2 linked regions of the Homo sapiens genome follow. The protein of the gene in region 2 purifies or fractionates together with the protein of the main gene of each other region. This does not show direct contact. Each region holds a gene or a part of one and is shown on either strand. Other genes may lie near its edges.

Region 1 (3,500 bases), on a different chromosome or scaffold from region 2:
ACAATAGGCAGCATGCAGAAGGGAAAAGATACTTTTTATAACCTAGAGGCAGCTTTTCTCTGCTTTTGTGTCAAGAAGGAAGAAGGGAGTTTGGAGAGGGATACAAATTCTTTTTAATACTAAGCTCTCTACCTCAAAACCAGAGATAGAATATGTAATAATTTGTAGAATTTCTAGACTTAATCTGATTTAAAAAAAATTTTTTTTTTTTTAGGTTGAGACTGAGCTAAAGTTAATCTGTTGTGACATTCTGGATGTACTGGACAAACACCTCATTCCAGCAGCTAACACTGGCGAGTCCAAGGTTTTCTATTATAAAATGTAGGTTCTATACTAGAAGGGAAAATGTAAGATTGAAAGTTGGTCCTTTTAGAACCATAACTTTGTTCTATGTAGGTTTTCAACTTTTATTTAAGAATAATTGTTCAATGTTAGAAGGATAGTTAATATTGTAATGAAAAGGTGGTTGGGCTATTATGAAAATGTATTAGCTTTTGCTTATTTATATTCTTTTGTTTTTGTGAGACCTATCCCATTCCCCTCCCCCAAACGGCATACATTTCACAGTGCTTAGTGTTATATATAGACATTTTATTTTATGATTAATAAACTGTCATGCCATTCCTTGGAACCACTTGCTTGTTTAATTCTGGTCTATCAGGTGATAATTTTATTAATTTTTAGAGGCTCCTCAGTTAATTTCCTGGGATTTTTGCTTATATTTAGTAATATGAAATGTCTAAGGAAAAAAATGAAACGAAGCCAGTTATTCCTGAGAGTGTTTAAAATTATTGAAGTACACCTAATTGTTACATATATTTTTGTCACATTTTATATAATATAGAACAATTTTAGCTTATTTTCCTTTAAAAATCGTTCCTAGTTTAAATTTTTTTTTTTTTTTTAATTTTGGTTTTGTTTTAGGAAAGGGGACTACCACAGGTATCTGGCAGAATTTGCCACAGGAAACGACAGGAAGGAGGCTGCGGAGAACAGCCTAGTGGCTTATAAAGCTGCTAGTGATATTGCAATGACAGAACTTCCACCAACGCATCCTATTCGCTTAGGTCTTGCTCTCAATTTTTCCGTATTCTACTACGAAATTCTTAATTCCCCTGACCGTGCCTGCAGGTAAGTTGTGGGGAAGAACAGCAGCGCTCAGCGTGAAAGTTAAGGGGGGCGCTGTTTGGGTTTTCCGTGTTGTTTCTTGGGCCTGTCTTTGTAGACTTGGCTGCATAGTAATTCTTTTGGCTCTTACTGAAACTACTTTGGATAGTATTAAAACAGACCTGTCTCAACCCACTAGCATAGCAGTCAGCATAATTATTTTGATGTGGGATATTTTTGTTGCTGGTAGATTGAAATCTAACATGTTAAAATGAGTAGAGGAAGGAAATGAGAGGAATTAGAATTATTTTAATTTTTGTTATATTAGTTTTCAGTCTTTTTTTAAATTTGAGACCATGTCTCACTCTGTCTCCCAGGCTAGAGTGCAGTGGCGCCATCTCAGATCACTGCAGCCTTCACCTCCTGGGTTCAAGTGATTCTCCTGTCTCAGCCTCCTGAGTAACTGGAGTTACAGGGGCCTGCCACCATGCCCAACTAATTTTTTTTGTATTTTTAGTAGAGACGGTGTTTTCACCATTTTGGCTAGGCTGGTCTGGAACTCCTGACCTCAAGTGATCCGCCCGCCTTCGCCTCCCAAAGTGCTGAGATTACAAGCATGAGTCACCACACCCAGCCAGTGTTCTGTTTCTATGGGCATGTTTTTAATAGTTACTCTCGTAGCAAACATAATTTTATATTTTCTGTTTTAGCATAAACAAGTTTCAGTCTTACTAATGTGTGTTAAACTGTTCCCCCATTTATACTTCAGCTTGTTCCCAGTTTTTGATAATGTAGATAAATATGTAAGGAATATTTATACGTACATAACTTTTTACTTTTAAAAAGTTGTGATAGCCTGGGTGCAGTGGCTCACGCCTGTAATCCCAGCACTTTGGGAGGCTGAGGTGGGTGGGTCACCTGAGATCAGGAGTTCGATACCAACCTGACCAACATGGTGAAACTCTGTCTCTATTAAAAATACAAAATTAGCCGGGTGTGGTGGTGCATGCCTGCAATCCCAGTTACTCGGGAGGCTGAGACAGGAGAATTGTTTGAACCCAGGAGGCAGAGGTTGCGGTGAGCCTCGATTGCACCAGTACACTGTAGCCTGGGTGACACAGTGAGACTTTTTTTCAAATCTCTCTCTCTCTCTCTCCCCCTCTCTCCCCCCCTCCCCCTCCTCCCCCCCTCCCCCTCCCCGTCTCCCTCTCTCTCCCCGTCTCCCTCTCCCTCTCGCCTGGGCGACAAAGCGAGACTTTTACACACACACACACACACACACACACACACACACACACACACAACAATTTAGTGGCACCGAATACATTGACAGTGTTGTGTAATCACCACTATTTGAAAACTTTCTCTTCACCCCACACAAAGCGAATTATAGCCATTAAACAATCAATAACTTCATTTCCCCTCTCCCTAGCTGCTAGTAACTTTTATTTTACGTTGTCACTATGAATTTGGCCCATTCTAGATACCTCATGTAAGTGGGATCATATAATATTTGTCCTTTTGTGGCTGTCTTTATTTCATCTAGCGTAATGTTTTTATCCATGTAAAAGCATGGATCAGAGCTTCAGTCCTTTTAGTGACTGAATTTACACAATTCATTTTATGTATTTTGCACACATTGTTTAGTCATTAAACTTTTGGTGGTCAGTGGGTTTCCACCTTTTCCCTATGGTGAGTACAATGCTGCTATGAAAATGGGTGCACTAAGTATTTGCTTGAGTCCTTGTATTTAACTTCACCTTGAGGTGGAATTGGGACTGAAAATTCTGTGGGTAACTTTTTTTTCCGGACAGGATCTTGTTCTGTCTCTGCAGTTGTGCACTCATAGCTCACTGCAGCCTTGGCTTCCTGGGCTCAGCCGATTCGCCTACCTGAGCCTTCCAAGTAGCTGTCACTAGAGGTGGATGCCACCATACCTGGCCTTTTCTTTTCCTTTTTTTTTTCTTTTTTCTTTTTTTTGAGGGAGAGCCTGGCACTGTCACCCAGGCTGGAGTGCAGTGGCGTGATCTTGGCCCACTGCAACCTCTGCCTTCCAGGTTCAAGCGATTCTCCTGCCTCAGCATCCAAAGTAGCTGGGATTATAGGCGCCTGCCACCATGCCTGGCTAATTTTTTGTATTTTTAGTAGGGATGGGGTTTCACAGTGTTGGCCAGGCTAGTCTCGAACTCCTGACCTCGTGTGATCTGCCCGCCTCGGCCTCCCAAAGTTCTGGGATTACAGGTGTGAGCCACTGTGCTTGGCCAGCCCTTTTTTTTTTTTTTTTTTAAGATGGAGTCTCGCTCTGCTGGCCAGGCTGGAGTACAGTGGTGCGATCGCAGCTCACTGCAACCTCCACCTCCCAGATTCAAGCGATTCTGGTGCTTCAGCCTCTC
Region 2 (5,275 bases):
ACTTTTCTAGACTCCTGGGTTATACAGGATTTTCATATACCTATTTTTCCATTTTTACCTTGCTTAGGTAATACTAATTAGAATTTCTTCCTCTTATTTATCTTCATTCATTCATTTATTAATCTAACAAATAGCCAAATGCTTACTGTTACAGGATAAAATGTGAATTTACAGACATAGACCTTGCCCTCATTTTACAGTCTAGTAGAGGATAGAGACAAGTAAACAATTACAAAATAGCATGATCAAGTCTTCTAATGGGGGTGTTTGGGAATTAAGGAAGGCATCCTGGAGGAGGTAGCACCTAGCAGGAACCTGAAGGATGCACAGGAGCTGGTCAGGCAAAGAGGGACAGGAGTTACAGGTTTCCAGGCAGAAGAAAAGAGAAGGCCTGTAGGTGTTTGAGGACCCGAAAATACAGTAGAAGATTGTTTACCTGAAATGTCTAGGACTTGACCTGTTGTTTCATATTAATGTGATTTCCGGAGTTTAAATGTCTTAACTCCAGGAAAGCATAGTGAATTACTGAAATTACATTTTGGTACATAAGATACAATTGTGTAGTATCAATTCACTGCTTTAAAATAGTTGTTACTCGCCAAAACATGTGAGTGAAATGAGAACCACCACAATGCTTGTATCACTGTGACTTTCCCATCTGCATCCTTGCTAGCTACCCATAGCCTGGGTGCCCACATCATCACCATGCCCCAGTCACTAGAACAAAAATCACACTTCAATTATTATAAAAGAGTATTTTACAAAATGGCTAATTACAAAACAAAACAAAACAAAACACTCCTGGAATAATTTTGTCGGAAAGCTCCCAGGGTTCCTGGATCCCTTCCCACAGTTCTACAAGGGTGGAGTGAACAGGGTGAGGCAGGAAGTGGCTGTAGATGAGGCAGGAGAGGAACGCTGTGGCCAGTGACAAATGGTCTTGAATAACACACTAAGAAGTTTGAGGAAGAACAGTGGTGAATCACTAAAGGATTTTAAGCAGGGGCATGATGTTATAAAGATTTATATTTGCAAAAGCCAGCTTACTCTAGCTGCAGTGTGAAAAGGGCTGGTGGCAGGGATCAGGGGACATGACTGGAAGCAAAGAAGTCAGTTAGGATGCCGTGGTGTTCATCTACACAATGGATGACAGTGACCTGAGTTAAGGAAAGGAAAGTGGAGAGGATGTTTCATTCACAGGCACTGGACAACTGACTTGATATGGCAAATAAGAAAGACAAGAGTTAAAGATAAAATTCACATCCCTAGCTTGTGTAACCCGGAGAATGACAGTGCCATTCACTGTCACCCAAGAGGAGGAGCAGGTTTTACAGAGTCATGGTAAGTTCATTTGGGACATGCTGAATTAAAGTTGTGAATACTTGTGGAATAACCAACTAAATCTATCCCATAGGCAGTCATGTACACGTATGTGTAGAACTCAGAGGAGCATTCTGGGCTGGAGAATCAGAGAGTAACTGAAATTACAGGAGTGGACAAACTCATCCAGAGAGAGTACATCAAAGGACATGGGAATAGGGCCTAGGATAAAACTCTGGGTTTTGCCAACCTCAAGGAACAAGCAGAAAGGAAATGTGAAAAGGAGAGGTGGGGGAAAACACAGGGAATGTGGTGCCACAGACACCAAGAACAGAAAATATTTCAAGGAAAAAAGAAGTCAACAGTGATTAATACAGTTGGGACGTCCAAAAAGATAAAAGGTTAAAAATGTCCACTGAATTTATCAACAAGAACTTGTTAGCGACCTTGGCAAAAACAGTTACAGTAGACACAGTAAGTCACCCCACGTCCCATAAAGCTGACCATGATCCTTCCAAACCTGTCTTGCCCATCTCTGAATGCCTCTGCCACCTAATTTTCCATGTTATTACTGTGGTACTTAATCACATATGATCTTGTACTATTAGTCAAATACTTCACATATGTTGATCTTGTCAGTGATGGCAAGGGCTATGATATATAATTCTTTCATTACTGAAAGTGTGGCCCATGGACCCATGCCCACAAACTGTTTTGTTACCAATTCATGATAAGGTAAGTACAGAAATCAACAAAAGGCTTTCAGAAACTTTTAGCAATTTAAAAAAATAAATAAAGAGACACTTTTAGCAATTTAACAGAGTAATTTTGTCTGTTGAACTCAATAAAAAATGCCTTGTATTTTATATGTGTTTAAATTTTCACTGTTCTAATGTTTCACTTTTACTATATTTTACAAGGGATTAACCCATGATGGATTAAAGGAGGGAAAAGGGTCCTCAAAGCAGCACTGCCCTTACAACATCTCCAAGGGTGATGGATATATTTACTACCCAATCTTATGGTACTATGAGATTGAATGAATAAATGAATGAATGAATGACCTATGACAGGAAAATAAACAGAACCCAAGGGAGAAAAAAAATCTCTGAATGTGACTATCATATGAAGGACATGTGACTAAGATAACTGACTCGGCTAAAGCTGTGGGAGCAAATCATCAAGTGATCCAGGTTATGCCAAACATGTGAGGTGTGTTTATCAATGGAGAAAGCATTAGTGAAAAGGCAATTTTGGAAGCCAGTCTAGAAACCAATTAATTTAAGGGCACTTTGGCCTTCTGGCAGGGAAAGGTTGCCTGGGAGAAGGCTCTGAGTTAGGCTGCTACCTGCCCCAAGCTGGCAGGAGTGCAGCTGGACTTAACCAGGGTACCTGTGAGCGCCCATTGAGGAAAAAGCTCTCCAGGAGTGGAGTTCAATGTAGAAATAACTTGGCTAAGTAAGTAAGTTCGCCAAAAATAAAGTGTGGAAAACTCTACTGGCCTGAAGAAAATGGGCTGGAGCATCCTAAGTTTGGAGAAAAAGGAAATTCAGACATGTAGGTTGGCCCTGGGTTCCCAACCCCAGGCTCACAACCTTTTTATCAAAAGCCTCTGAGACAGTGAATTGGGCTCTGTGCTGCTACTCACTGGTGTCATGGTGACAAGCGGAGAGGGTCCCCGTGGGCGCTTCAGCAGCTGCTGGGCATGCAGTTGGATGTTGGCTCCTCCATCTGATGCCCTCCGGCCAAGGGGGCCCATTCCATTCAACAGCTGTAGCGTGGGCGGCTGTAGGAGAGACTGCTCCTGCCAGGAACAGAGTGGGGAGGACGGACCATGAGATGAGGGGAAGGCGGGGAGAAAGGGGCAAGCCACTCATCTATGGAAATTAAGGGAGCCATGGGTCATGACAGAGACTAGAGGACGCTTCCCGCTCACCCGAGCTACTTTGCAAGATAAATCATCTTTCTCTATAAGTAAACCCTTAAGTCCTAGGGAAGGTGCCTCATAGCCTCTCAAAGGAAGCTCAAGTTTGTTTCTTCTGGAGCCAGCCCTCTTCCATGTCTAGGTACCTTGTACTCAAGTTGCCCGGTTGGTTGCAAGTTTTGCATAGGCAACAGGTTGTGCATGAAGTTCACATTAGGGGCCACCTGCAGGAATGGAGCCTGGGGGTTGACTCCAGGAAAGCCAGGTAGGAGCTTCTGCAGATCTTCCATAACTTCCGTGCTGATACAAAACAGAATGACAGAGAAGTTTAGTTAACATTCTTACTCAAAAGTGCTTATATCCCAAAACTGATGGCATTGCTATGTTCAGTACAACTTATTTTATTTTCTTCCTGAATTTATGTTTCTCTTTAAGATCCTAAAGCAAAGCAAAAGCCTAAAGTGTGGAATTTAACTCTCTGCTCCTTTACTATTTGGGACGAAGGATTGCTATTCTTTATTGGCCATTCATGTAAAACCAACAGCTCTGAGCCAAGAGGAAATAGTGGCACCAGTCCAGTTCAGGTTTTCAAATCCTGGAGGTGAACACCAAGTTTCTGGAGAACATGGGCCATCCACTAAGATAATGGCTGCCTGAAGTAGCAACTGATTCACCAGGGAAAGAATGCAATTACTCTTGTCAGTGCTGATAGGACAGATAAGTACTAGATGTACAGGGCTATCTTGCTACAATGATAGGTTTTACAGCATACTTTAAAGTAAGACATCTTTCCACTAACAGAGCGACTCAGGGCTCCACCCCTTTAAAGCTATCTCAGTCTGTGGAGCCAGAATGTTCCCCTATTGCCTATTTGATCATAGGCTGAGAACAAGAGACATAAAGCAAGCACATCAGCAGGCATGGGAGTCTTTTTTGGAAATTCACTGGAAGAAAAGAGATATTTATAAGAAAACCAGCTTTGCCCTGATTTGACCTCTCAGGAGAATTCTTCCCACAACCTTCTCTTCCTACTCAGCAAAGAAAAAATCCAGAAAAGAGGTAAGGCTATTTTAATGTTGAGAGTCTTCAACCGTGGAACAAAAATGGGGCGAGCTGGCCTTCAGTCCATTTTTTCCAGTGTGCAGGCAGCAGGGAACATCATGAAAGACTATTTTGGGAAAACACTTTGGGAAACTGTTGTTATTGGATTTTGGATCCTTATTCATTTAAATTTTAATTGTCTACATACATAAGTTACATCATATCATTTGTCCACTTGGCCACTGGATTAGATCTCCTCTGGGGATACAATGTAGTAGGAAATGTGCCATGGTAGACACTGAAAGTCAGGTGACAATTCTTTGCCCCAGTGTTAGTGAGGGCTGTTGGCCGGATACTCACCGTGGGTCAGCCACACCCACTGTGTGCCTCCTCATTGACAAATAGCGCACCAATGCTTCAGGGGAAGGCTCTTCACCCTCATCACTGTCCAAATTCAGTGTCCCATCCGGCTGAGGTGGAGGGAAACACCATCGAGTTAGAAATCAGAAGGAAGGGAAGCAAGGATATGGCAAAGAAAGTGGTTTCAGCTGACAGCTCCCACAGGTTGCTACTTGCCTCCACAATTTGGTTCTCTGGGTTGATCAGCTGCACCTGGGGAACGCTGATGTTCATAGCAGTACCTGCCTGCTCCGCCTGGAAAGCAGTACATACATATACACGCATACCTTTAACACTAGAGAGAAATAATGAGTCTTTCCAAGTAGTCTTGATTGCTAAAGTCTATGTTTCCCTGATTACTAAAGTTTTTGGTTCATCGGCCCTTAGAAGTCACAACAAGGAAGCATCCTGTGAAGAGGATAGCATCGCCTCATGATTTGCTATTTCTTCAAAAAAACAAAAGGCACAACTATTGTTGCTCATCCCTCCTCTCCATCAAAAAAGGTTCAGATCTTTGATTGGCCTCTGACAAAGGAAGAGATGACAAATGGGAGGAGACAGAGGTAAGGAAGAGCAAGAAACTCTCGACTT

What was found. Proteins that work in one complex are often made in the same cells at the same time.
Region 1: the proteins of SIK3 (region 2) and YWHAE purify together in Homo sapiens (affinity purification with mass spectrometry; 4 studies listed by BioGRID and IntAct, with this or other methods). This does not show direct contact.

What each region holds. Positions count from the first base shown.
Region 1 is NC_000017.11:1,358,723-1,362,222, reverse strand, and holds part of YWHAE (14-3-3 protein epsilon), read left to right. Parts: intron 1-214; coding exon 215-321; intron 322-924; coding exon 925-1,131; intron 1,132-3,500. UniProt on the Homo sapiens protein: Adapter protein implicated in the regulation of a large spectrum of both general and specialized signaling pathways. Binds to a large number of partners, usually by recognition of a phosphoserine or phosphothreonine motif.
Region 2 is NC_000011.10:116,870,513-116,875,787, forward strand, and holds part of SIK3 (serine/threonine-protein kinase SIK3), read right to left. Parts: intron 4,940-5,275; coding exon 4,862-4,939; intron 4,756-4,861; coding exon 4,646-4,755; intron 3,545-4,645; coding exon 3,391-3,544; intron 3,125-3,390; coding exon 2,969-3,124; intron 1-2,968. UniProt on the Homo sapiens protein: Positive regulator of mTOR signaling that functions by triggering the degradation of DEPTOR, an mTOR inhibitor. Involved in the dynamic regulation of mTOR signaling in chondrocyte differentiation during skeletogenesis.